Linked DNA regions of Homo sapiens. The protein of the gene in region 2 purifies or fractionates together with the protein of the main gene of each other region. This does not show direct contact. Each region holds a gene or a part of one and is shown on either strand. Other genes may lie near its edges.

Region 1 (7,027 bases), on a different chromosome or scaffold from region 2:
CTAAATTAATGTGAGTCAATATGGCTTAAGAAGTGGAAGTTGTTATAAGCTTTCTCCTTTTTTTTTTTTTTTGTAACAAACATGCAGCTCTGTTTTCTGCTTCTGTAATTTACTTAGTAGTTGATTACAGGTTACTGAATGCACATTGTGCCAGGCTAATGGCGTTTTTTTGTTGTTGTGTTTTTTGTTTTTTGTTTTTTTTTTCCTGTAGCTAACCTGAGTTAACTACTTGATTGGGTAATCTACCAGTTATTAGGTTGAACAAAAGCATGGGTTTATTACATCCTTCAGGATAGTAAAATAATAAAGGTTGCTTACATTTTCGAATAAACGCTGATAGGATTCCCTTAGTTAAATATTATAGTGTAGTTGACAAAGGTTGTTATTTTTCTTTTTCTTTCTTTTTTTTTTTTTTTTTGATACGGAGTCTCTCGCTCTCTCCTGGGCTGGAGTGCAATGGCATGATCTCGGCACACTGCAACCTCTGCCTCCCAGGTTCAAGCAACACTTCTGCCTCAGCCTCCCGAGTAGCTGGGATTACAGGTGTGCGCCACCACACCTAGCTATTTTTTTTTTTTTTTTTGTATTTTTAGTAGAGACAGGGTTTCAACGTGTTAGCCAGGATGGCCCCGATCTCCTGACCTTGTGATCCACCTGCCTCAGCCTCCCAAAGTGCTATGATTACAGGCATGAGCCCCCGCTCCCAGCCATTTTTTCAAATGTATTTAATGTGACTTTCTTCCTGTGCATTTAAGCTTTCGTGTTATATTTTTGTATCATGATTTCATTCACAGTGATATTGTTGTGCTTTTGGTATCCAGCTAGAAGTGAGACACTGAGCAGAGAGGAGGCATTCTGACAGTAATCAGTTTGCTGCTAAGCAGCACTGGTTTTTGGCGGAAGTATTCTCCTATATAAACTCGTAAATGGCTGCAACTGCTTTTTCTATTGAGCTTTTACTAAACTTGAATTTATCCTTGTCACTCTTTCCTTTTATACTGAAAGTAGTCCAATATGGTGAGCCTGAAAATCTGTGCAGCCAATTAAAGTATTTGCAGAAAAGAAAGAAGAAAAAGAGCACTTTAATTTGATCATTGGCGTTATTAGGCTCCGACTTGCCAAATGGTGAAAGCTAAAGGCATAAATGGAGAGCTTTGCCCAAGTGGGGTTTGTCGGTGTTCATCACGTCAGCTGTAGAGTAAGTAAATGAGTCACTGGTGGTCACTGCCTAGTCTGTGGACCCCCAACAGCTATGTCTGCACACAGGTCCAAAAGCATCTATTATGATGCCCTCTCAAGGAAAGCAGCTGAGCCGAGAGGGGCATGCAGACATTCCGCAGAGCTCTTCAGCTGCTGAACCATCTGGATGCGAAATAAAAGGCCTGGGCTAGGGGCTCTAGCATTGTGCATATTTATTACTTGGTTTTCACTTGCCAGACTTTGTCCCCTTTTCACTCGCCAGACTTTGTCCCTTTTTCACTCCCTCTGGCCCAGAACAGACGTCCCCTTTAGCTGGGGTGTCATTGTTACAAGCTCCTTTCTGTACCTTGGTTGAACACTGAAAAGTTCATAAATCCACATGTCCACTCATGATTCTAGCCACACCTCCACCTATTTAGTTTGCAGTCCTATTTGGCACTGTGATTTCATCAGCTGGGGTAATGAACACCACTGTCAGAGTCGGCAGCATTTTGGCAGCCTTATTTTGAGTTATTTGGAAGGAAAATGCTCAGAATAATTGTCATTATGGGTGGTTATTGAGTGGTAAATGTTTTGATTAATGGTTCTGTGCATCTGCTTCTTATTTAACCATCCCCAGTTAGAACTCCAAAATATTGCCCATACTGGTTCTTTCATTCCGAAAGAGTCATAAAGCCTTCTGACAATTTGACTGGAAAGGTAGATGGTGAGGAGAGGCCCAGGTTTATTATGGCAGGCTTCGTAACACTGGAGCTCTTCTTTGCAATTTGAAGTAGAATTTCTCGCTCAAAATGTAACTTTCTTAATCTCTGAGTAAGACTCCTGCCTCTGGTGGGTACCAGTTAGGATCTGACCCTGAAAAGCACTGGATTGCACAGATTATACATACTTAAGTGTTTATTCAGGGGAAGTCATTTACGAATTACCAATTCCTGGGCAATGCCCATTATTGAAGACATGGGACACTTCATGATCATTTTTATATAAGAATTTCTTTCTTTCATGCCCTAAATCCCAAAGCTGCTTTAGAAAAAAAAGGGAATGTGTATTCTATCTGTATATCCCTGGTGCCTTGTAGGCTATAATTATTCAATAAATGGATCAAGGGAGGTAGGAAGGAAGGAACTCTGCTTCTCAATTCCAATTTGGAAAAGTTTGTGGCCATGGAGTGTTGTGTGGGGATTTCTACTGCTTAGTACTGTTCAACTGGCTAACACATAAAGGTGGAGATAAGTGGTTTGCCAATGGCATCATTTCAGAGGTCTCATTCATGTGTTCTGTGTGCATGTGTAGGATTGAGGGATAATATAATTCAGTGTCACACTAGAGTGCAAATCTTGGCTCCACCCCCATTTTGTTCAAGGAGATTAATGCTGTCTCCTTGGACAGTGGCTTAATTTTGCCAAGCCCCAATTTCTACATCTTGCGTGGGAAAATGAGAAGATCCACTTCTAAGATTTGGGAGGATTAAATGAGATGATATACATAAAGTACTTAGTTTAGGCCAGACTCATAGTAAATGTTCAGAAGTAATTCCCAGTTACAGTGCAGCTTTCTGCTTTTATTTGACATTAAATTTATCAATAACCTGCTTTTAAAGATAGAGGAAGCTCTGAACATTACCTGCTGCCATTATCATTTAGTTATATAATGATGTTTATATACATAGTACACTCCCTGCCCATTCTCAGTCTGTTCTATAGCATTTCACATCTCCTGCTTTGCTTCTTTGGAGGTAGATCTGTAGATAATTCACTTGTTACCTCCTCTTCAGTTTACCACTCCTTTGTAGCTGCAGGTATTCTTTTGGTTATCTTAAATTCCCTCTTGTATCAGCTTTCTCTGGAATTAGCCACTCTCGCTTGCTTGCCACATTTAACTCTCAGAACAAACCTTCCAGATGGATATTGTTATTCTCATGCTGTAATCGAGGGGACTTGAGAAAGGTTTTAGTATAGATTCTCCTCCAAAGTTTCATCCCATAGCAAGACAATGCAGTCGAAGTTTGTGAATCCATTTACTTAATTACTAGCCTATTGAATTAAACTTCAGACAGCGCTGCATGTTACAGATTGGCAGTTGGTGTTGGCTTTCTACTTCTTGCTTAGGAGGCTGAAAATGCCTTTGAGAAAGGGTGGGATGGGGGAAGTGGAGGTGTGTAGGTGGATGAGATGGGCATTCCAAAATTTTCATATGCCCATTTCTGTAGACCTCATTTAGGGTACGTTTCCTCTCAAGGAGTGATCCATACAGGAAGTCAATCCATGATATTTACCAAATCCCTGGCTTGAAGAACAGACTGACTGTAGTATGCATTTGGGGGAAGATATAAAAGAAATAGGAGCGTGGATCTTACCATTAAAGAACTTTCTGCCAAGTGGGGAGAAAAAAATTCTTGCACATGAAATTACTGATGAACATTTGGGAAATAATATCAACCAGTAAAAATGCCTTCTGTGCCAGATGAGCACTGACAACTTGTCACCATGCGTAACATCTCCTGGATGTTTCAGCGTGAGCATTTGTTCCACAGGGGTGGTGCTTGTCTCCCCTTCAGTCAAGCACAGTGTTTTGAGAAGGAAGGAGATGAAATAAAGAGATAAAGAAAAGAAAGCTGCCATAAAATGAAAGAGGTTTGATTTAGTGAAAATCCAATGACCTCCCAAAGAGTGGGGCATGATAGTATATCAAATTCGACACCGTGGATAAGATCAGGGCTTCTCAGTACATCAGTGTTTTATTCCTCTCTTTCATTGGTTTAAGATGGACAAATCCCCGCCCCTTAAAAATAATTTTTAAAAAGGGAAGTGTTAGAATTCTTTCGCTTTTGAGTTTTTAAACATATATGCAAAATCAAGCAAAAGAAGAGTCTTGCTTTTATGAGGTCGGTCAGATAACAGCCCAGGGGACTGTAAAACTCAGAGTGAGACTAAGAGCTACCGCAACACTGAAAATCCTGGAGCACCTTGGGGATTCTCAGCAGATCTTAGTTGACAATTAACTGGTGGACTCTAAGTGAATCTTGTTAGCGAAGTGTTGGCCTTGTCTAAATTCTTAACTCCTGTGGCTTTGCATAACAACTTGGTGTTTCTTTTCTGAGGCTTTGATGTTTATATAACACTCTCAACTTATTTTGAAAACATTTACATAGTGATTAGTTAACCCAACAGACCAATCCTGGGAAGACAGCCAGAGCCTGCAGCACCTTAGTAACAGAAAAACTGATAATTAGGAGAAGAGACCTGTCCAAGACCAGGAACCTGGACCAAAATTGTGCCATGTTGCTTTACTTTAATGAGTGGCCCCAGTAAAAACTGAGCTGTATGGCAGAGCTGTTCACATTTATCTTCTGTGTCCACCCAGTTCTGCTGAAACCCCTGGCAAGATCGTGGCCCTGTTGTAGCTTGTCATGTTTTGAACAGCTGTCTATGGAAAGAAAGCAAACACAACCTAGAGCAACATTGATTTGTTTTAGAAAGCTCTTTTATTTTCAGTTCTGGCTGTGTTCAACATCTTAGCTTACGTTTTTCATGTTGTAATGATCTGCCGTATGGACGATCACCTCTAAGTTAGAGAGTTCTGTAATTTGGCTTGGATTAAAGATGCTTGGTTAGTGAAAGCTGCTGCTTTTTTTATAGTCAAAGGACTGGTTCTGAGAGCCTTGTTGCAGATGGCTGAGGTCACCGTCCCAAGGGTGTATGTCGTGTTTGGCATCCATTGCATCATGGCGAAGGCATCTTCAGATGTGCAGGTTTCAGGCTTTCATCGGAAAATCCAGCACGTTAAAAATGAACTGTCATGCAAGGAAAAAAAAAAAACCACAGATTTCATTAGTAAAATACGAGCTACCTGGAATTTTATGATGTATATTTTTAACAAAAATGACTCAGTTATTGACGTCTCCAAGTTTTTACTGATCCTAAGGACAGTGGCAAAATGGAAAGCCTGGAGTATGGGTAGGTGAGAGAGACGGAACACAGGTTAACCAGGCATAAAGAGATGAGATGCTTTAGTGAGTGGAGGTTCCCTGAGATGCTGTATGATTCATATAAACCAGTCAGTGGCTCCTTTAAACCTCACTGTCTGAAAGGTTGAAATAGTGTCTTCCCCTTTCTCTAGGCAACTAAGCATTACCTAAAACTCGCTGGGACTAAAGCAAGCTTCTGGGAATATTCTTCCCGTCACACCTCATGTAATTGCACCAGTGAAGTTAATTGAGTTGCTTTTTGAGGAACTCGTGTAAAAGGCATTTAGTTTCATGTAAAACAGGGAGGTGGTTTTGTAGCAGACGTCGTGTTCATTTAGTGCCTCTTGCTGCAGCCCTCCAGTCTAGCTATGATGGGGGCCATCTAAGCTGAATGAAGTAGAACGAATCAGCTTGGCCACGCTGACCGATTGCACCATCGGGGCAGGTTGTCTAAAGCTTGCCAGCTAGCATGGAAGCTCTGACCATGCAGTCTGCTGGCGCTAACAATTAGTTCACTTGAATAGTCTTGCTGTCAAAGTGGCTTTTCACCTTCTTAAAATCCTGGGCTAGAAGAGCTGGGAGAGAACCACCTTCAGCCTTGAGTTTGGCAGTCTGGCTGTCCGCCTGAGAACCAGGCAAGAGAGGAGGGTGTCTTCTACTGTACGTGACCCTCTCATTCTGGTAATTTTGCTCCCAGTGTGATCTGAGCTTATGTATATGCCCCTGATGTGAGTGCATGCAGGAGTGTCACTGGCCAGGGCTGGTCCTACAGAGACTGGGGGTCTTGCTGTGGGGTGCATCAGAAACTGGGTGTTCCCGAGCATTCCCTAGAGACTGGTGGGGTACAGAGAACGGGAATGTGCCAGGTGGTGACCACGGTAGGACTGGAGAGGCTGCCACAACCTGTCCTTGTCTCTGTCTTACACACAGGTGAGCACTGTGGGCTATGGGATGGATGAGGTGGAGCAGGACCAGCATGAGGCCCGACTCAAGGAGCTGTTTGACAGTTTTGACACGACGGGCACAGGGTCCCTGGGGCAGGAGGAACTCACCGACCTTTGCCACATGTTGAGCTTGGAGGAGGTGGCCCCAGTGCTGCAGCAGACATTACTTCAGGACAACCTCTTGGGCAGGGTAAGGTCTGGGGAAGAACGTGGCTATGGGAAGTGGGGTGCGGTTTCTGCCGGGGTGCTGGGGGTGGGGCGGACCACACATGTTGCAACTTGTTTCTAGCATCCTGGCTGTTACATGATAAAAAGAAGAATGTAATGGGTGTGACATCACAGTCCAGTTTGCTAGGGTGACAAGAGCCTGCTTTAATTTGTGCTCTGGAATTATGGTGTACAGTGAGCATCTTAGATAAAGAGGCAATGAAAGGATGTTTTCCAACTTTTTTCTTGTTCTTTGTGGTTTATTTTATTGACTCCACATTCATCACTGGGACAGAAAGGAGGAGGGTGAGATTTCCATTGAAGAGAAAGAAAATGCAGTAAGAAAGCTATTGTTATGACTTTTACTCCCAGTGAAGCTATTTCTTGTGTGGATTATTTCTGGGTGAAGTATTAATTAAACTTTCTACCCAGGAAATAAGACAGCAGGGTAAATAAATACAGTGCAGGTTCATTTAAAACCCAGCACGGCTTGCTTCCAGCAGGGATGTGTGTGTGCACGCCAATGTTAACCTCTGTGTTTGATGACAAATAGTCATGTTATTACCATAGATCAAGTCACAGATGTGAGTAAGAAGTGAGAGAGGGTCTTTTTTTCCTCTTGCCAATGGTGGATATTTGATCTGCCATGACCTGAGATTGCCTTCAATTCTCCTCATTATAATTAATAGCTTTTATTATTTGCCTTATT
Region 2 (7,027 bases):
ACCAAATGTCTGTCAACAGACAAATGGGTAAACAAAATGTGCTATATTCATACAATGAAATATTACAATTAAAATATATACAATATTAGCCATAAAAAGAAATGAAGTACTGTACATGCTGCAACATGGATGAACCTTGAAAACATTATACTAAGTGAAAGAAGACAGTAAAACACACACATACACAGATACACACAGTATATTATCCCATTCATATGCAAATCCAGAATAGCAAAATCTATAGAAACACAAAGTAGATTAGTGATCGATTGGGCCTGGGGATGGAGTGAGGAAGGTGGAGTGTTGTAGTTAAAGATACAAGATTTCTTTTTGAGGTGATAAAATGTTCTAAAATTGACTGTGGTGATGATAGCACAGATCTCTGAATATACAAAATTCATCAAATTGTATACTTTCAGTGATTGAATTCAAGTGGTGGTATGCTATGTAAATTATATATATGAAAGTTGTCAGATTCGACATGGAGTCACTTGTGTCAAAGCCTGGCAAAATAGAGCTGGGGGACGGTTATGAAGGGAGAGCTGTCACACATGATTTGCCTGATAACAAGAACTATCACAAGAAATTTTTCTCAACTGCAGCTTACTACACAAGTCACACAGGGACAGCTAGCCACTTAAACAAGAACATTTGCCTGACACACTATCTCACAAGCCCAATCCAAACTGCAAGGGCCTAACCATAACACTAAAATTGCAAGTCCTACTTTGCAATTTACTGACACTCACCAATCAGAACTCACCAGCTCTTATATAAGATGCTGCCAGTGCCAGTAAACTGTCTTTGAAAACAACTTGCATAACCTCCTCTTCCCCCAATAAACTCCAGCCTTTCTTTTGTTTTCCAAACATACCAGAGGCCACCCTGTTCTGTCTGTAGGTCCAAGATAGCAATCCTGCTTCTCGTATGTTATTCCCCAATAAAACCTTTTTACTTAGAGATATGTCTTTATATTTTTTATGCTGACATATCTTTTTCCTTTATTTTTTTAACTGACACATAATATTTATACATATATAGAGTGATGCTGTGATACATGTATAGCGATCAGATCTGTGTAAGAAGAGAATGGGATAAGAAGAGATAGATTAAATTATTCTGGGAATTTTTTATTTTAAAAAAAGGAGTGAGGTTACCTCTTTCATTGAAATAATAAGAAAGTCACAGAGAATAGATGAAGTTGTAAGAGGGAAAAAAACAAGAGAAGTGCCACGTTGAGAAAGGTCACGGCCAGTGGTTTTCTCTTAGGGTAAAACCAAGACAAAAGTCATCTATAAAGATTGAAGAGTTGCACAAGTAGAATTTTAGGTTATTACTTTGACCTTCAGGTCTCTTGATTTTAAAGAAGTTTGTATAAATGTCCAGTAGAAATCATTTTTTCTCTGAAGTACTTGGCCAGCTTAGCAGCAGATACAGAGAACATCTCAATAACATTTTCTTAGAACTTTGAAAGGAAGGTGAATTGGAAAAATCAGGGTGCTAATGAGAGCACCTTGAAATGATGGCTATGGAAAAAGGATGACTATAGACATGGTGGGCTGATGGAGGCTGGAAGCAAGAAGGGGTCATGTAGCATAAATTACAATAAGGTCAAAGAACAAGTTCTTTAGAGTAAAATATACCACCCTTATAGATATGCAAAGCCTAACATGACGTCCATCTGTTTTCTCTGATATTATCTTGTACTACCCTCCTGTTACTTGATCTGCACCTCTGGCCAACACAGCCAGGTATGGTCTCTCCTCAGGGCCTTTGTACTTGCTGTTCTTTCCTCATGGAAAGCAATTTCCCTGAAAATCTACACAATTAGCTCCCTCTTTTCCTTCAGGGCCCCTCAGTAAGCCTTCCTTTGCCTCATCCTATCTAAAATCGGATGGAAAAGGAAAAAAGACTTAAGCATTATTCTCTATCTTCCTTGCTTTATTTTTCTCTTAGCACTTATCATTATCATATTCCATATTTAACTTATTTTAAATTTTTATTTTTGTGTATATCTCTCCTGTTACTGTGTAAGCTTTAAGAAGACAGGGAATTTTTTTTTTTTTTTCTTGACAGAGTCTTGCTGTGTCGCCCAGGCTGGAGTGCAGTGGCATGATCTTGGCTCACTGCACCCTTTCCTCCTGGGTTCAAGCAATTCTCTCTCAGTCTCCTGAGTAGCTGGGATTACAGGCACATGCCACCATGCCACCAGGTCCGGCCGGGAATTTTTTTTTTAAAGCAAGTTCTCTACTATATTTCTGCACCTAGGAAATACTTGGCAAATATTGTAGTGACTTAATATTTGTGGAAGGAAAAGTAGAGATAGAAGGTGGGGCATGTAGACAGTTTCCTTTAAGCTTGAAGATCTTAGAGGTGGAGCAGTTCAAAGTGATGACTCAAATTTGGAAGCCCCCTAGTAAAGCCAAAAAAGGTTATTATAAATGTAGACTTTTAATATAGGACATATTTTAGAAAAGATGTTTGACATTGTAGTTACCAAGGATCTTTAACGGTAGATTTGGAGAACGGGAAAGTGTTAGTTCTTATAATTCAGTGCCAAAATTTCTGCAGAAGTGGGAAGAGGCTTCTGAGGTCAGTAGATGTCATGAGTAAAAATAGTGACATTTAAATAGATGGCTCGGACTTCAACAGAGGATTGCTTCAGACACATTTAGATACTAAGTTCTTTCATGCTTCCATCATGGTCTTGGTATCTTCATCTATTACAGAAATTATTATAATTAGCATTTTACCTGCCAATTTCTTCACAAGACTGTAAAGCACTCTTAATCTCTATCTTCCCAGCACTTTACAAAGTGCCTGGTGCGTAGTATTCTCAGTAAATATGTGTTGAGTGAAATACTTACTGAATGAGAAAACATTAAGAGATAACTATGGAATTATGATGTTGGAGCCAAGAGCATTCTGATCTCTAGGTCATATCAGTGGACCAGAAGGGTGAGAAAAAGAGAAAGCCAAGTTTCATATACATGAAGGAGCAGGTTAGATGTTTTAAAGGTTAACTTTTTAGATGAAGGAAAATTTGTTGTTTATAAAAGAAAAAAGACAATGCAAAAGCTGGTGGAAGGATTGTAAACAGGGATGATGTGAGAAGACAATTAATTATAGGAGTAAGGAAACATGAAAATAATGGTTATAGACATTTGATAGTAATTGTCGAAAGAAAAATGTAAGATCAAATAGTTTGACTGCTAAATGAAAATCAGCATGAATTATTAAAGATATGGGAAGTGCAAGCAGGAAAGAAATGTTTCTCAGGTTACATTTGATGTTGTGAAGAATATTATAAAACAAAGTAGCATAGAACTCCACTTGGGAGTATTTACGTGATTTTAGGACTTCCATAAATACTTTTTATTTTGTCTCACTCTTGTTAGTAACACAAAAATGGAAAATGTAAAAACCTAAGTCTGTACACTTCCCTCTCAGTCAGTGAGCTTTACTGGGGAGGCAGCTATGGATGGAAAGGGCCAAGCTAATGGAGCAGGTCTCTGCAGGCTGGTCTTTCTTCCATATGCTTCGATAACTCTATAGGTATGATTTACAAGTAAAGGCATAGCCCCCATTAGCATTAATAGGATTTTACTGTTATTCTTTTAGTTTAAGGAAACAGATAATACAGTAGGTATTGGTGCATATTATTGTGCATTTATAGTGGGGACTTACGTAGAGATTAAAATGTTAATATAGGCCGGGCACGGTTGCTCACACGTGTAATCCCAGCACTTTGTGAGGCCGAAGCGGGTGGATCACTGGAGTCAGGAGTTTGAGACCATCCTGGCCAACATGGCAAAACCCTGTCTCTACTAAAAATACAACAATTAGCTGGGCATGGTGGCGGGCAGCTGTAATCCCAGCTACTTGGGAGGCTGAGGCAGGAGAATCGCTTGAACCCAGGAGGTAGAGGTTGCAGTGAGCCAAGATTGCGCCGTTGCACTCCAGCCAGGACAACAGAGTGAGACTACGTCTCAAAAAAAAAAAGGTTACTATGGTCCTGAATGTTTAATTATGAAATATATTGGTAAATATGTACGTTGTGAAACAAATTATTTTCTTTTTCTTAATATAGAGTTACATTTTTATGGGAGGTGCATTTTTTAAAAAGGTATTTACAGCCTGATACAATAGCATTTAGCTCTGTGCAATTTAAGTTAGTTTTTAAAAAATTTTGTTTCCACAGTCCAGAAAAGGCTTTGAAAGACTCACTACAACCCTATGAGGCTGCTTATCTATCAAAATCCTTATCTCGACTCTTCGATCCTATCAACTTGGTTTTTCCCCCGGGTGGTCGTAATCCTCCTTCCTCTGATGAACTTGATGGTATTATTAAAACTATAGCAAGGTATGTATTTTTTATATAGTGGCTTGCCATAAGATGACTGCCATATTTGTTAGTGATATATGATAGCAGTACCTTTTTAATTTATTTTCAAATTATTCAAGTAATTAGGCCCACAATTAAATTAAGAATTTTATAGTAAATGAGTGCACACATAGTAAGTACTTGAGATTCCAATTAATAAATAATTTAAATACCTTAAATATAGTCTAAAAACAGTCTATTATAATTATTCTATATCTTGCCAAGGATGCAAAGTAAACCTAGCTCTTTGTATCATAGTAAATTTCTTACGTTACACAAGAAATCAAATATAATAAACGATTTTATAAATTGAGAAACTAAAACATACAGGTTAACTTTTTTTTATCCTAAACTCCAGAACGTGCTTCATGGCAGAAATAGGAATATAACTTTGATTAGCTTGTGTTCGCTATTTTAAGCTTTTTAAGTGAATGTGACAGCTTTTAAGACTAAAAAGGGAAGATATCCTAGCAGAGGTGCCACCTGAATGCCTGCAGACAATGTAATTATATACTGTTGGCTTTAGACACTTATTTAAAAGTTATCCAGACCAATTTGCAGTTGAAATTATCTCAGTTTCTGTCATGACTAACAAGTTGTCATAATAGTAGATCTGTACATTTGAGATGGACGTTTTAAGGAATAAAAAATAGTATGAGACTGAGGTCTAAATTCTTTTAAAGATTTGAAGATGGTGATTCTGAGGCGTGGAAGAGTAAGACTAAAAAGCCACAGGTGGCCAGGCATGGTGGCTCACGCCTGTAATCCCAGCACTTTGGGAGGCGGAGGTGGGTGGATCACCTGAGGTCAGGAGTTCCAGACCATCCTGGTGAAACGCCATCTCTACTAAAAATACAAAAATTAGCTGGGCCTGGTGGTGCACGCTTGTAACCCCAGCTACTCGGGAGGCTGAGGCATCAGAATCGCTTGAATCCGGGAGGCGAAGGCTGCAGTGAGCCGACATCACGCCACTGCACTCCAGCCTGGCTGACAGAGCGAAACCCTGTCTCAAAAAATAAAAATAAAAAGCCACATGTATAATAATATACATAAGCATATCTTTTGCTGCAAACGTACCTACAAATTGTCTAGATTGCCCAGCATCTTGGTCCTAAATCTCTCCACAATTGCCTTGACTTTCCTTCTGACTATAGGTCTTAGTAACTTGATCTCTTTGACCTGTTTATGTAAATGTTAAAGAGGAATCTCTCCCATTCCTCTGTGCAACTTGACAATGCTATAATCAAATATAATCTACAACTGGAAGAATCATGCTTATGCTAGTGTTTAATAAAATTTAAAAGTGAACATTAACAAAATTATGTCTCAATACTGTATGAAAGTGCATTTTTGTTACACATAGTATGCTCTAGTATTGTTTCAAACTTTCAACTTCTTTAAAAAGAGAATCTGGTAAGATTTACTCTACTACTTTAGGGACAATAATTTTCTTGCTTTCCATCTGTATATGGGTTTCTATATTATTTTTAATTTCTAGTGTTCTTTCCATGGTCTTCGTAAAATACTTTTTTTTTTTTTTTTGGCAGTCAGATCAAATACCCCAATTAATCCAATGTTAAAGTTGAAGCATGACAAAAATATACTTTAAGAATCCGAATTTTAAAAATTTGTAATTATAGTCCTGTTATGCTTTTATATTATTTAAAAAGCTACTCTATTGAAACTAGCATGAATTGGCATAATTTCTACAGAAGCTGAGTATCTTTATATATCATGTGTAATTTATATTTTTAGCCTATGTCCCTTTAAGGTCATCATTTCCATTCAAGAGCTGTCATTTCCTTGCAGATGTCTGTGATATGCAATGCCTCTGCTTGCACTTTATCAGTATTAGCAAGAGTGCTACTTTAAAAATCTGTACACAATTTACTCCTTTAATCACAGACTGAACCCACATATGACATGCTTTTGTTAATGAGAAACTGGTCATTAAGGAAGCCATCTCCAGGTACTTTTTCCAAGTGCTGAAATTAGGGGGTAAAATGAAACAATGCAACCAGTTCTTGGAAGCAGTGAAATCTATAAAAAGAATAACCACATTGCTTATTGGGTTTGAGTTTTTATCTTGCTCTTTACTTTGTTGATGAATGATGTTGCTAATATTTAAAAACTGTTTTCATTTTCTCCAGTGAACTAAATGTTGCTGCTGTTGATACAAACCTCACATTAGCTGTGTCAAAAAATGTGGCAAAGACCATCCAGTTATACAGTGTAAAATCAGAGCAGCTTGTAAGTGGTTTCCTTTATCTGTAAACTTTAATGATTTTATTTAAAATTACTAACTATATAATACTTGACTAATCATAAATATTGAATTGACTATTTACTTACTTCCATTTTTACTGTAGTGAAAGTTTGTAACTTCCTGATGAATTTAAACCAGAAAAAAAATTTGTTAACAAAAAAATGGCCCTCCTACACATTGTCAATACACTTTCAGAAGACAAGCAAGTTTTATAAGGTTTCCTTTTTTAACGCATGTGCCAATTAATGGCCTAATTATATATTTTTAAATATTTAAATATTTTAGTAATTTACATAAATTATAATTATGCATGATCAATCAAGTTTTCCCTTTTGTGTGACCACTAACTCCATATATCATTCATGCATGGTCACCTA
Region 3 (7,027 bases), on a different chromosome or scaffold from region 2:
AATGTGGTACATATACACCATGGAATACTATGCAGCCATTAAAAAAAGACCAAAATCATGTCCTTTGCAGCAACATGGAATCAGCTGGAGGCCATTATCCTAAGCAAACTAACGCAGACCAGAAAACCAAATACCACACGTTCTCACTTATAAGTGGTAGCTAAACAATGGGTACTCAGCCGGGCGCGGTGGCTCACGCCTGTAATCCCAGCACTTTGGGAGGCCGAGGTGGGCGGATCACGAGGTCAGGAGATCAAGACCATCCTGGCTAACATGTTGAAACCCAGTCTCTACTAAAAATACAAAAAAAATTAGCCAGGCGTGGTGGCGGGCACCTGTAGTCCCAGCTACTCGGGAGGCTGAGACAGGAGAATGGCATGAACCCGAGAGGCAGAGCTTGCAGTGAGCCGAGATCACACCACTGCACTCCAGCCTGGGCGACAGAGCGAGATTCCGTCTCAAAAAAAAAAAAAATGGGTACTCATAGACATAAAGATGGCAACAATAGATACTGCGGACTACTGGGTGGGGAGGGAGTGGGGCAAGGGTTGAAAAACTATTGTGCACTCTGCTCTGTACCTGATTGCCAGGATCAATTGTACCCCAACCTCAGCATCATGCAATATAGCCAGGTAACAAACCTGCAAATGTACCCTCTGAATCAAAAATAAATGTTGAAATTATTTTTCAAAAAGTACCTAGAATAGGTAAATTCATAGAGACAGAAAGTAGAATGAGGTTACCAGGGGGTGAGAGAAGGCAGAATGAGAAGCTATTATTTAATGGGTACAGAGTTTCAGTTTGGGATGATGAAAAAAATCTGGAAATGCATAACAGTGATGATTGTACAACACTGAGAATGCACTCAATGCCACTGACTTGTACCTTTAAAAATGGTTAAAATGGGGCCGGACACAGTGGCTCACGCCTGTAATCCCAGCACTTTGGGAGGCCAAGGCGGGTGGATCATTTGAGGTCAGGAGCTTGACACCAGCCTGGCCAACATGGTGAAACCCCGTCTCCACTAAAAATACAAAAATTAGCCAGGGGTGGCGTGTGCCTGTAATCTTAGCTACTCAGGGGGCTGAGGCAGGAGAATTGCTTGAGCCTGGGAGGCGGAGGCTGCAGTGAGCAGAGATCACACCATTGCACTGCATCCTGGGTGACAGAGTGAGACTTCGTCTCAAAAAAAAAGGTTAAAATAGTCAATATTATATTATGCATATTTTACCACAATTTTTTTTAACAGGCTGCTGCCCAAAAGGGAAGTGATTAGGAACTGAATGGAGATAGAGAGGGCAGGACCAACTTAAGAAATTTTAAGAACTAGACAACAAATTTGGTGACTGAATGTGGAGGTGAGGAAAAAGTAGCTCTTAGGTGTCTGGGTAGATAGGAGTGGCATTATAAGTTTCCTCTTATAGGTAAGGAAACAAAGTCCCCAGAGCACAAAGTAATTTGTCCAAAGTCACAGTTTGTTAATAGCAGAAAGAACTGAGATGCCAGACATCTGATTGGAATTCAGTATTCTTTCCACAACATAATATATCTGAAAAGAATATTATATTTGTGTAGTATTCTTTAATTTATGAAGTTTTTGCATACATTATTCCACTTGATACTGATAAAAACCTATGAATTAGACGAGGCAGTTATTATCATTTTCTTGATGAGTATACTTAAATAGAATAAGAAAATTTATGCAACACCTTGAAATCCTTAGACAAAGATGTAATTTTTATCTGTTGGATTAAAGGGGAGCCTTCAAGTGGGAGGCAAAGAGAGTCAAATGATAAACGTGTTGGGACTATCACGGCTGCTGGATGTAGTAGGTATTGAAGGGAATACAGGACTAGAAATAGAAGTGGTTTGGGTAGTTTCCAGGGCTGCCACATTGTGTAATTCCATGTCATAATTTTTACAGACTGTGGCTGCTGCCCACTAGATTTGTACAATGCAACAGCCATGGATGAAATAAGGTAGGAGTCTCAAACCTGCAAATCGGGATCTACTGGTAGATCTAGACACCTCACCTCCTATAAAGCTCCATGCTGGCTCCCCATAATGTCTTCTCTCTGCTACATGTCTCAGCTAAGATTCCCATTGGGAAAGGAAGAACAGCACAGCCAGCAACTACTTCTCAGGAACTATACTGTCAGTATCTGCCCTGATCTCATGACTCTGAGATTAAAAGAAGCTCCTCCTTATAACAAGGTTGGACATCACCATAATAAAAGATTGGGAGGAGACAAAGGTAGTCTGGTATGATCATTTCTACTTTTCTGGTGGAAAAAATTTCTTAAAAGCACCTGAATAAGCAGCTATGCATGATGGCTCATGCCTGTGTACTCCTAGCACTTTGGGGAGGCTGAGGCAGGAGAATCACTTGAACCCAGGAGTTCAAGACCAGCCTGGGCAACAAAGTAAGATCCCGTCTCTACAAAAAAAAAATTTTAAAAATTAGCCAGGCATGGTGGCACATGCCTGTGGTCCTATCTACTTGGAATGCTGAAGTAGGAGGATTGCTTGAGCCCAGGAGGTTGAGGCTGCAGTGAGCTGTGATCGTGCCACTGCACTCCAGCCTAGGCAATAAAGCCAGACCCTGTCTCAAAAAAAAAAAAAAAAAAGTGCCTGAACAATACTGTCAAATGTTCTTAGAGCATTATTATACTTACATTAAATCCAAAGGTAACAAGAAAAAATACAGGTCATAACAGGTATTCATTTGACAATCCATTCATGCTTTAAGCCATGTTAAGAGAGTACTAACACAGGTTACAAACAATACTTACTACATAAGCTTCTGACCAAGTTGAGTTTAGGTAAAATAGAAAACTGGGACACAAGTGGTCTAGCCAGATGCTTCAAATATAGAAGACAATCTAAAACTGACCAGATGCTTCAAATGTAGAACATAACCTAAGCCAACCATTGGTAGCTCTCAGATGCCCACGTCAAGTAGCTGCAGTTTAGTTTCTCTTTCTCATATTTAGACAAGGAAAACACACTACCATTAAACGCAACTAGAAACAAAAGACAGGCAAATGTATTGTTTTGCTTGAAGACATTTCTGATGACATTCTACCAACTATCACAGAATGTATTTATTTCTCTTTCCTTTACTAACCTCCTTTTATTTCTCCCAACCTTTCCTTGGACTTCCTACTGGCACTTCATGTGTACATTGCTTAACTGATACAAGGGTTACTGACCCCAACCACTCTGTAAATATCAGTTTGTTGCCTATAGAGTTGTGTCACTGAGAAAACTTACTATAAAATTCTAAACTTAAACAAATTAGAGTAGAGATGAGATCAAACCAAGGCAGTATGACCCCAAAGCCCCAAACCCTCTCCAGAACAGTGTATCCAAAGGACTTTTAGACAGACTTAAATAGTTCTTCAAAGCATTCAAAAGATGGTCTGCATCTATCACTTGCAGTGCTCCTCCCCAACATAAAATCTCTACTACAATCAAGCAAGTCCCTTCACTGATTGCCATATAGTCCATGCTCTTATCATTTATTTCTATGACTTTGTTTAGAACTGGTCCCCTCACCTAGAATGTTTTCTTGCACATATTTAAGTTCTATTACTTCACTAGTCTGTAAACTCCACAGAAACAGGACCATATCTGCTCTGTTCACTATCATACCACCAGTGAACATGGTGGCTACTCAATAAATCACTGTTGAGTAAGTAAATGAACTGAAGTCCCACCTCCTTCATGAAAAATCATGTCAAATACTCCTAGCCACTTTCTTTTTAAATTCCGAATACCCTGGAATCAGTTTCATAGTTTAGTAGTACCTAATTTCTCTCTGCTTGGTATTAAACTTCTTTCTCTTGCTAGACATTGGAACATATGCCTTATGCTTCTTTGTATAGCTCACAGGAAACACTGAATATGCAATAAGCACACAATAAAAATGTACTAATCAAAGTGCTGACATGCTTTGTAAAAATTCAATTTACACACAACTTTGTAAGAATGCAGCTATTTGCAGAGTAGGTTAGACATACATAAGGCCTTTTCCCTTGCTTACACTGTATCACAACTTATTCAGTACAAGTATGGTTCAGCATTTGACAATTAGGGAATGTGGAAAATCTCGATGGCCTAGAGTCTGTGGCTCACTAATTACAGAAGCAGATTGTTATGAGTTTTCTTGATAGGGAAATAGGATGAGCACATCACAGTGATTTGATTTGCCAGCTGTAATAATGAGCTTTAAGATGCCATGTTAGCATATGTAGGTGTACTATAGGCTACTGGGGGACCCTCTCAATCTGAGTTTTCCATTTTCTTTCTCTTTTTTTTTCTTTTTTTTTTTTTTTTTGAGACAGGGTCTCACTCTGTCACCCAGGCTGGACTGCAGTGGCATGATCTCAGCTCATTGCAGCCTCAACCTCCCAGGCTCAAGCAATTCCCCCACTTTAGCCTCCCCAGTAGCTGGGACTATAGGCGCATGCCACCACACCTGGCTATTTTTTGTAATTTTTGTAGAGATGGGGTTTCACCTTGTTGCCCAGGCTGGTCTGGAACTCCTGAATTCAAGCAATCTACCCACCTCAGCCTCCCAAAGTGCTGAGATTACAGGCGTGAGCCACCGCACCGGCCAATTTTCTATGGTGTAAGTTAGAAATTAAGTATTGTGCCGGGCGTGGTGGCAGGGCCGGGAGCGGTAGCTCAAACCTGTAATCCCAGCACTTTGGGAGGCTGAAGCGGACAGATCACCTGAGGCCAGGAGTTTGAGACCAGGCTGGCCAACATGGCGAAACCCCATCTCTACTAAAAATAAATAAATTAGCCGGGTGTGGTGGCACACGCCTGTAACCCCATCTACTCGGGGGGCTGAGGCATGAGAATCGCTTGAACCCTGGAGGCAGAGGTTGCAGTGAGCCGAGATCGTGCCATTGCAACTCCAGCCTGGGCTACGGAGCAAGACCCTGTCTCCAAAAAAAATTTTTTTAAAGAATTTAAATATTGCTTGCAAGTATTGATTGATTAGTATATTGATCCTGTAGTCTACTAAATTTATAGTACAGCAAAACTGTAATTTATAATTTTATTATATAGGATGTTAAAATTACTTTTACAGTAAATAATATATTAAAATATTAAAGGTAACTACATTTTATTGTATGTTTACTATCTGCCAGACACCGTACATGTATTAGATCATTAACAATCCTGTGAGACAGGTACTGTTATTGTCCCCATTTTAGAAATTTGAAGGAACTGAGGCACAGAGGAGTATGAAATCTGCGCAGGGTCATACAAGTAGTAAGCAGAGGGGCTGGGATCCCACCTAGACAGTCTAGCACCTGGACTGAGCCAGACAAGACAGGCTTTTTTTTTTTTTCCGGACAAGACAGGGTCTCACTCTGTCACTCTCTCATCCAGGGTGGAGTGCAGTGGTGTGATCTCAGCTCACTGCAGCCTCAACCTTCCAGGCTCAAGCGATCCTTCCACCTCAGCCTCCTGAGTAGCTGGGACTACAGGCACGTGCCAACACACTCAGCTAATTTTTGTATTTTTTGTAGAGACAGGGTTTCCCTATGTTGCCCAGGCTGGTCTCGAACGCCTGGGCTCAAGCAATCCGCCTGCCACGGCCTCCCAAAGTGCTGGGATTACAGGCGTGAGCAACTGTGCCCCACCTAGCCTCCACTCTTAATCCTATATTATACTGTCTCTCCAAAACAATATATCGCAATACAATGGTGAAGTTAAGATACCTTGAAGCATCAAGAGAATAATATCTAATACTCCAGAAAATGTTCAAAGATATTACTGTCAAGATGAAAAAACAAACATAGACCATTTCACTCCAGCCTAGGTGACAGAGCCAGACTCCATCTCAAAAATAAATAAACAAAAATAAACATTAGGTGTTTTAGTATATCTAAATATACATTTAGTATATCTTTTCTTTCTAGGAGAATCTGAGAATACAATTAAGACACCATTTTTAACACTAGGTGTTTTAAGGCCTGGCACAGTGGCTCATGCCTGTAATCCCAGCACTTTGGGAGGCTGAGGAGGGTGGATCACTTGAGGTCAGTCAGGAGTTCGATACCAGCCTGACCAACATGGCAAAACCCCTTCTCTACCAAAAATACAAAAACTAACCAAGTGTGGTGGCGCGCACCTGTAATCCCCGCTACTTGGGAGACTGAAGCAAGAGAATCACTAGAACCCAGGAGGCGGAGGTTGCAGTGAGCCGAGATAGCACCACTGCACAGCACGATGCTGTCTCTACAAAAAGTTTAAAAATTAGCTGGGAGTGGTGGCACACACCTATAGTCCCAGCTACTCAGGAGGCTGAGGTAGGAGGATCGCTTGAGCCTGGGAGATCGAGACTGCAGTGAGTTATGATGGCGCCACTGCACTCCAGCCTGGGTGACAGAGCAAGACCCCATCTCTTAAAAATAATATTATTTAAAAAATAATAATTAATTAATAAATAAGTAGCTAGGCATGGTGGCATGCGCCTGTGGTTCCAGCTACTTGAGAGGCCAGAGGATCATTTGAGCCCAGGAGATTAAGGCTGCAGTGAGCTATGATTGTGCCATGGCACCCTAGCCTGGGCCACAGAGCGAGGCCCTGCCTCTAGAAATAAATACATAGATAAATAATAACAATAACATCTTTTAAAATAAAAATAAAATAAAATAAGGTTAATGGCCAGTCTAAAACAATATCCCTACAATGTGAAATAACCCATTTATTTCAACTGGTAAATTGTTAAAAATGCACTCCTGATTATAGGTCTGAAAAACTGGACTTCTACACTAGAGATTAATAGTAAAAATAAGTAAAACTCTTTTTTCATCCTTGAGACATAGCTGTATAATTTTAAATGTGAACAGAAAATATGGTACAAAGTACACATAACTGACTCAAAATGGGGTATTTTACCCTCATTTCCTTCAAGGAAAGAGGTATCTGTGAAAACTGATGTAGTCTACCAATATCTCATACATTTGGGCACAAAAAGATTAGGAAATCACTTCAATTTGCAAAC
Region 4 (7,027 bases), about 22 Mb from region 2:
CTGGGAAAATTTCCAGCTCTAGGATGGGCAAAGAGGGACCTGTCACCTTGGGAAACTCTTCCTGCTGCCCTGGCATCATGGTGCTTTGCCTGGAATGCTTTATAGGGGGCCTCTGGCCCTGCTTCCAGGTGCAGGGATGCTAATTCTTAGGTTCCATTAGCTCTCCTCAAAATAGAAGCTTTGGGGGGCAACAAATCGGAACAAAAGACAGCTAGAGAAGAAAAGTTATTCTGAGTGATACATGAGGTACCCAAAAGCCTAGAGCCCTGCTTTCAGACAGTGAGTCTCCCAGCTAGTTGCTAGGATTCATGACATCAGAGAGTTTGCCTTTATTCTGAGGCTAGATTTATAATCTGAGTATAATGGAGGTCCTATATTTGGCCAGGTCAAGCAGAGGCAATCAACAAGGAATCAAAGAACTGCAAGTTTTTCCAGCTGTATCAAGCCTCTCAGAAGAGCCTTTAGATTAAATGGTGCTGGGAGAAGAAGGTTGGCACAGTGGGAAGGCTTGGGCTGGAGTCAAACAGACCTGAGTTCAGTATCTCAGCTCCACTAATTAGCAGGATGAACGTAGGAGGTCTGGTTATGGTCTTTCTCTGAGCCTGTTTCTATATCCAGGATATGAAATCAAAATTGGTTAATAAAACCTTATAGCTAGATGGGATCCTGAAACAGGAAAAGGACCTTAGGGAAAATGTAGAGAAATCCAAGTAAACTATGGAGTTTAGTTAATAGTAATGTATCAATATTTGATTCCTTAGTCATGACAGGTATATCATGGTAATGTAAGATGTTGACAATTAGGGAAATTGGGTGAGAACCCTCCCAGGAAACTCCGTACTACCTTTGCAACTTTTTTGTAAATCTAAAACTATTCTAAAATTCAAAGTTTATTTAAAGAAGAAAAAAACCTTACAGAGCTATTTTGGGAATTAAATGAAATGTGAAGCATGTTGAAATCACTTGCACACTTACCAAATCTGAGGCTGAAACTATCAAGTCTAATGCTTAGCGCATGGTTAGTTTTCATTAAAGATTAGTTTCCTTCCTCCCTTATATGGTAATCTGCAGTATTCTAAGGAATTCTGATTAGAATTAAGAGGAAACATTAGAAGTTACTTTTAGGGTGTTGAATCTTCCAGCAGGTAAGATAGGTCTTGTGTTCTAATTAGAGCAAGTTAGTGTTCTTTAAATATCAGTAGAATTAATGTTCTAAGAGACATAATTCTTTTTCAATTTTTTGCTAGTGGACACAGAGTCTTGCTCTGTTACCCAGGCTGGTCTCGAACTCCTGGGCTCTAATGATCCTTCTACCTTGGCCTTCCAAAATGTTGGGATCACAGGTGTAAACCACTGCACCCGGCCAACATAATTCTTAGTCATGAAGCAACAAAACAGATACAGGTGTTTGTATCATCACAGCCTTAAAAGTGGGCATGGTGACTCATGCCTGTACTCCCACCACTTTGGGAGGCCGAGGCAGGTGGATCACTTGAGCCCAGGAATTTGAAACCAGCCTGGGCAATGTGGCGGAACCCCATCTTTACAAAAAAATTCAAAAATTAGCCAGGCTTGGTGGTGTGTGCCTGTAGTCACAGGTACTTGGGAGGCCGAGGTGGGAGGATCACCTGAGTCCAGGGAGGTCAAGGATGCAGTGAGCCATGACTGTGCCACTGCACTCTGGTCTGGATGGCAGAGTAAGACTATCTCAAAACAAAACAAAACCAAAAAGGAAAAAGTATAGGTATAGGTGACTGGTGCTTAGAGACATGTGCTGGAGTATTTCAACCGGATCTCTTCTAATGCTTGAGGATGATATGTGAGTCTGGTTAGGATGGGCCTGTCAGCAGATAAAAGGCCATTAGAAAGAATTCCTTTTTTTTTTTTTTTTTGAGACAGAGTCTCACTCTGTCACCCAGGCTGGAGTGCAGTGGCACAGTCTTGGCTCACTGTAACCTCTGCCTCCAGGGTTTAAGCAATTCTCCTACTTCAACCTCCTGAGTAGCTGGGACTACAGGCATGCACCGCCACGCCTGGTTACTTTTTGTATTTTTAGTAGAGACAGGGGTTTTGCCATATTGGCCAGGCTGGTCTCAAACTCCTGACCTCAAGTGATCTGCCCACCTCGGCCTCCCAAAGTGTTGGGATTACAGGCTTGAGCCACTACACCTGGCAAGAATTCTTTACCACATCCAGACCAATGTATTTGGTGTGGGAATAAAGAACATAAAAGGAAACTCAGAATGCCTGAAAGGCAGGTACTGGCAGTCACATCTGACAGTTCACATCTCTCAGCTTTTTGTACTAAAAGCATAATTGGAAGGTAATCATAAACAGTTGAATGGAAATTTTACATACAGTAAACTTTTGAAAGTTTTTACATACAGTAAAAATTTGAAAGTTAATTAAACTTTCAAAAATTGCTAAAAGTTCAAGAGTCTGCTTCGGTTGAGGCTTTGAAGATGAGCACACAGGGTAAATCTTCAGGGCAGATGAGAAGAAGGACAGCTATTGGGAAGAGGAGAAAGACTCACTGCACTGTGGAATTTCCTGGGCCCTGTCTTCTAAGCCTCTACCTTTTTTCTGTCTTTAGAAAAAGAGAAGCTCTTTAACCTTCTGCTCTCAGGTTTCAAGACAGGAAAACTGGGGGCTGGTCATCAGTGCTTTCCTTTCCTCCCGGTCTCATCTCTCTCTGCCTGTCCTCTGCAGAAGAACTGCAGGAGCTGCGGGAACGCTACCATTTCCTGAATGAGGAATACCGGGCCCTGCAGGAGAGCAACAGCAGCCTCACGGGGCAGCTTGCAGATCTGGAGAGTGAGAGGTACAGCTGTCTCTGGAGAGTGAGAGGTCATGGGGTTCCACAGGACTCTGCCTTACCTTGGGCTTTCCCTGAAGGCAGATGCCAGGGCAGTGAGCGTTCCTTTGCTCCTGGAGACCCAGTCCTTTCCATGGTTTCCAAAGGATACAGATACCACCTACAAGCAGACATGGGGATCCGACCCAATTATCTCAAGACTAGAGGGAGTGAGTTCTGAAGTTTACTTCTGCTCTAGGCACTGGGTTCTGGTTTGCTCTGCCCTAAAGTGGATCAGAAGAGATTCTTTTATTGTCTGCATAGACTTGTTTCAGTCTAATGGCAGGCACAATGCTTCCAGATTGGAGTGGGCTTGACTAGGCCTAGCCTCAAAACTAACTGGACTGGCACTCTAAGGGTCTCCCAGAGCCAAACACACCTTTGCAGATTGAGGGGCTGGAGACTTTCTGTAGTCTTTTAAGCATGTTTATCTGAGCGGTGAGTCACAATAGAAGGCCCCTTACTATCTTTGGCCTAAAATGAAGGTATCAGGACAAAGCCTGCATGGCTGGTGATGCCAGGCAGAACTCCCTTCAAGCATAGCTCTGCGGTTCTGAATTGCAGGACACAGAGAGCAACAGAGAGATGGCTGCAGTCCCAAACACTGAGTATGACGTCAGCAGAGTCTCAGACTTCAGAAATGGATTTCTTAGAGCCTGATCCTGAAATGCAGTTGTTACGGCAGCAGCTACGGGATGCTGAAGAGCAGATGCATGGCATGAAGAACAAGGTAGGGCACAGAGGGTGGGGAAGGCAGGCACATTTCTTGTCTTTCTTTCACCTTCTCCCAGCCTGTGGTAGAAACATCTCCATAGGCATCCACTGTGGAGGGAGATAGTACTCTGGGGTCTCACTTGCCTGATGTAAATCTTCCAGTCAAAGAGCGCCATGCTTTCCCCAAGCTTGTTCTTGGAGCATATGTGGTATCTGTAGTAAACAAGCCTCCCTGTTCCATTTCCCACATAGTGTCAGGAATTGTGTTGTGAGTTGGAAGAGCTACAGCATCATCGCCAGGTCAGTGAGGAGGAGCAGAGGCGGCTGCAGAGGGAGCTCAAGTGTGCTCAGAATGAGGTGCTTCGGTTTCAGACCTCCCACAGTGTCACCCAGGTAAACACTGCCCGGGGAGGCATCTGGGGTGGGGGCAGAAGGGCCTCATGGAGGGGCTGCTTCAACCGGGGTGGGCACAGTGAGTATGGCTGTGCTCTGCTGACTCTTGCCCTGCAACTGGGCACAGTCTGCTGGAAACCAACTGTAGAAGTCATATAGCACTGCATTCTAGAAATGGTGGTCATTACTGAGTGTCCATCTCACAGAAGAAACCAAACCCTAGACCTGTGGGAGCTCCTCAAGATGTCTGCATCTGAAAAGGAACCCAACTGATCCGTAGAAAGACCTGCTGTTTCTTGAGAGTAACTGTTCTACTCACATCCTCCCTACCACAGAATGAGGAGCTGAAGTCCAGACTCTGTACCCTGCAGAAAAAATATGATACTAGCCAGGATGAGCAGAACGAGCTCTTGAAGATGCAGCTGCAACTTCAGACTGAGCTCCGGCAGCTCAAAGTCATGAAATCCACACTTGTAGAAAACCAGAGTGAGAAGGTAACAGCAACCAGAGGTGAGGGGACAACTTAGGTGCTAAGGGCATCCTTCTGAGGTTTTGGGGAAGGTGGATAAGAGTAGTGAGTTAAAAATAATTCCAGCAACCACATAGGCAGCACCACAGGTAAAGAACTCCAGCCCTGCTCGAGTACTACATTAGATATGAGGACATTAGGAAGTGAAGGGCAGGAAGAAGCAAATCTTAGACTGTTGGTGTCTTCAAGTGACTCACACAGAAGAGTGAGTGGGTTAAGGAGCCCAAAGGCACTGCCCAAAGCCCCCTCTACCATAGGAGTTACTGTGCCGGCTGCAGAAGCTGCACCTCCAGCACCAGAACGTCACATGTGAGAAGGAAAAGCTGCTGGAACGGCAGCAGCAGCTGCAGGAGGAGCTGCAGTGCCATGAGGCAGAGCTGCAGCACCTCAGGGATACGGTGGCCTCCTTCAAAGAGAGCAATGAGAAGGTAAAAGAAGCTCCTGGTGAGGGAGGATGTAGCCAGGCATCATCTTGTGTGAGGGTGAGAGCACAGAGGACGAGAGGGAATGGTAGGAGTGTGGAGGAGCTGGCAGTGAGGGGGCCAAAGAGGTGCTTAGGAGAAAGGTGACCTCGGGGAGTCACAAGGCTCTCAGCTTCCTTTGATTTTAAATCAGAAAAGCAGCATATAAAAAGGAAGTCCCTTTGCCTCCCCACCTCCCAAAAAAGGAAGCCCCAGAAGGTCTGTGTTTCTTTTTAAATTATTTTTATATTTATTTATTTATTTATTTAACTGGAAAGGCTGCACTGGGAAGGTCTGTGTTTCAAGCCTGTCAGGGACGGGTCCATCTTGGGTATCTATCCCTGGCTGGGATGAAATTGGGGCTGAGAAGGACAAGGGAAGATGGGTCCCCTTAGTCCCCGCCTGGGAGGAGAGAGTCCAGCAGCAGGAGTGCCTGGGATGATGGCCAGGCCTGCCTCCCCTGCCCAGGACACAGAGACGCACGCTCAGCTTCAGGAGATGAAGCAGCTGTACCAGGCCAGCAAGGACGAGCTGGAGCGGCAGAAGCACATGTATGACCAGCTGGAGCAGGACCTCCTGCTCTGCCAGCTGGAGCTGAAAGAGCTCAAGGCCTCCCACCCCATTCCGGAGGACAAAGGAAAGTGTGCTAATAAGGTAATTGTCGTTCAGAGAGGTGACAGCTCCTGGGCACTTGCTCCAGAGAGAAGAGGTACAGAGGCAAAAAGTGAAGGCACCCAACCCAAGGGCTTGATGGCCTTCCTAGGCAGGAAGCAGAGGCAGGGCCACATGCTGCTAACTTCAAAATTGTTTGCCCTGACCTTGACTTTGAGCCAGAGCCACAGCTTAGTAGGATCAATACCTTTGGATCCCAGTCTGAACCCCTGAAAGTTTTACACATGATTCCATGTATGTAGACATTTATACAATGGTATTAGAACTGTAGTGATATCTAGTCATTCTTGGAGGGGAACATATACATGGGCCCATTACACAAATATTATTGTTGGAACTAGAGAAAGGGGCCAGTTTTCTGGGTCAGATTGCAAATGGTCTTATAAAGGGGTACGGTCTTGTGCCCAGAGTGCTGATTGGGCAAGAGAAGGACCTAGGCTCTTCTAGGATTTATTCTGTGACTTTGAAGTAGTTAAATTCTTTTTTTATGAAATGGAGTCTCACTCTGTCGCCCAGGCTGGAGTGTGCAGTGACACGATCTCAGCTCACTGCAGCCTCCGCCTCCTGGGTTCAAGCAATTCTCCTATCTCAGCCTCCCAAGTAGCTGGGACTACAGGCACATGCCATTGTGCCTGGCTAATTTTTGTATTTTTAGTTGAGACCGGGTTTCGCCATGTTGGTCAGGCTGGTCTCGAACTCCTGACCTCAGGTGATCCACCTGCCTCGGCCTCCCAAGGTGCTGGGATTACAGGCATGAGCCGCCATGCCCTGCCAGTAATTAAATTGTGGAAGGTTGAATTGTGCCCTCTTTAAATGGAAGAGAATACTACTCTTAACTCACTTCCTTTTAGCAGTAAATCCTGGTAGTGATAAATAAGGCCTTATTCATTTTTTTTCTTTTCCATAGTGTATAAAATGCAAGCCGTTATCATTTATCCTGTTGAGCACTTTCAGCTCCTGATTACTGATGGGAAATGGAAAGGTGTTGAAGCATGTTGGAGAAGAGGCCCAAGAGTCTCTAACGATGGTGGAGTTGGTCACATTCTGCCAGAAAACTCAGTAGTTCCTGTCCCTGGGGAAAGGCCTTCAGGAGACGGAGGACTGGGAAGGTTATTTGGGCCACCTCAGCAGTCTCTTTGCCTTTCTATATCCAGGCTCACGTTTCCTCCTTTTTCCACTGCTACTCAATTTAGGAGCCCAGGTGATCTGTGACTTGCTCGTCACCTCTTCCCCTAATGGGAAAAATGATGGGAAAGGAGAAGCATGCTGGCAGACAGCACCTGCTTTTTCTCTAGCCGTAAAACAGCATTGAGATCTGTCTGATATTAGAAGATCTGGGTTTTTGGAAATGGGATGATTTAGTCTTCTCAACCCAAATTTACCAATAGCGCATACTTTCTAAAG

Evidence for each region.
Region 1: the proteins of COG5 (region 2) and NIN purify together in Homo sapiens (affinity purification with mass spectrometry; 2 studies listed by BioGRID and IntAct, with this or other methods). This does not show direct contact.
Region 3: the proteins of COG5 (region 2) and ATP7A purify together in Homo sapiens (affinity purification with mass spectrometry; 2 studies listed by BioGRID and IntAct, with this or other methods). This does not show direct contact.
Region 4: the proteins of COG5 (region 2) and CCDC136 purify together in Homo sapiens (affinity purification with mass spectrometry; 2 studies listed by BioGRID and IntAct, with this or other methods). This does not show direct contact.

The regions. Positions count from the first base shown.
Region 1 is NC_000014.9:50,821,148-50,828,174, reverse strand, and holds part of NIN (ninein), read left to right. Parts: intron 1-4,665; exon of another isoform or gene 4,666-4,993; intron 4,994-6,097; 5' UTR 6,098-6,118; coding exon 6,119-6,301; exon of another isoform or gene 6,302-6,378; intron 6,379-7,027. UniProt on the Homo sapiens protein: Centrosomal protein required in the positioning and anchorage of the microtubule minus-end in epithelial cells. May also act as a centrosome maturation factor.
Region 2 is NC_000007.14:107,280,907-107,287,933, reverse strand, and holds part of COG5 (conserved oligomeric Golgi complex subunit 5), read left to right. Parts: intron 1-4,201; coding exon 4,202-4,363; intron 4,364-6,534; coding exon 6,535-6,634; intron 6,635-7,027.
Region 3 is NC_000023.11:77,913,667-77,920,693, reverse strand, and holds part of ATP7A (copper-transporting ATPase 1), read right to left. Parts: intron 1-7,027. UniProt on the Homo sapiens protein: ATP-driven copper (Cu(+)) ion pump that plays an important role in intracellular copper ion homeostasis.
Region 4 is NC_000007.14:128,801,941-128,808,967, forward strand, and holds part of CCDC136 (coiled-coil domain-containing protein 136), read left to right. Parts: intron 1-2,709; coding exon 2,710-2,821; intron 2,822-3,418; coding exon 3,419-3,584; intron 3,585-3,820; coding exon 3,821-3,961; intron 3,962-4,296; coding exon 4,297-4,455; intron 4,456-4,747; coding exon 4,748-4,918; intron 4,919-5,419; coding exon 5,420-5,605; intron 5,606-6,595; exon of another isoform or gene 6,596-6,824; intron 6,825-7,027. UniProt on the Homo sapiens protein: May play a role in acrosome formation in spermatogenesis and in fertilization.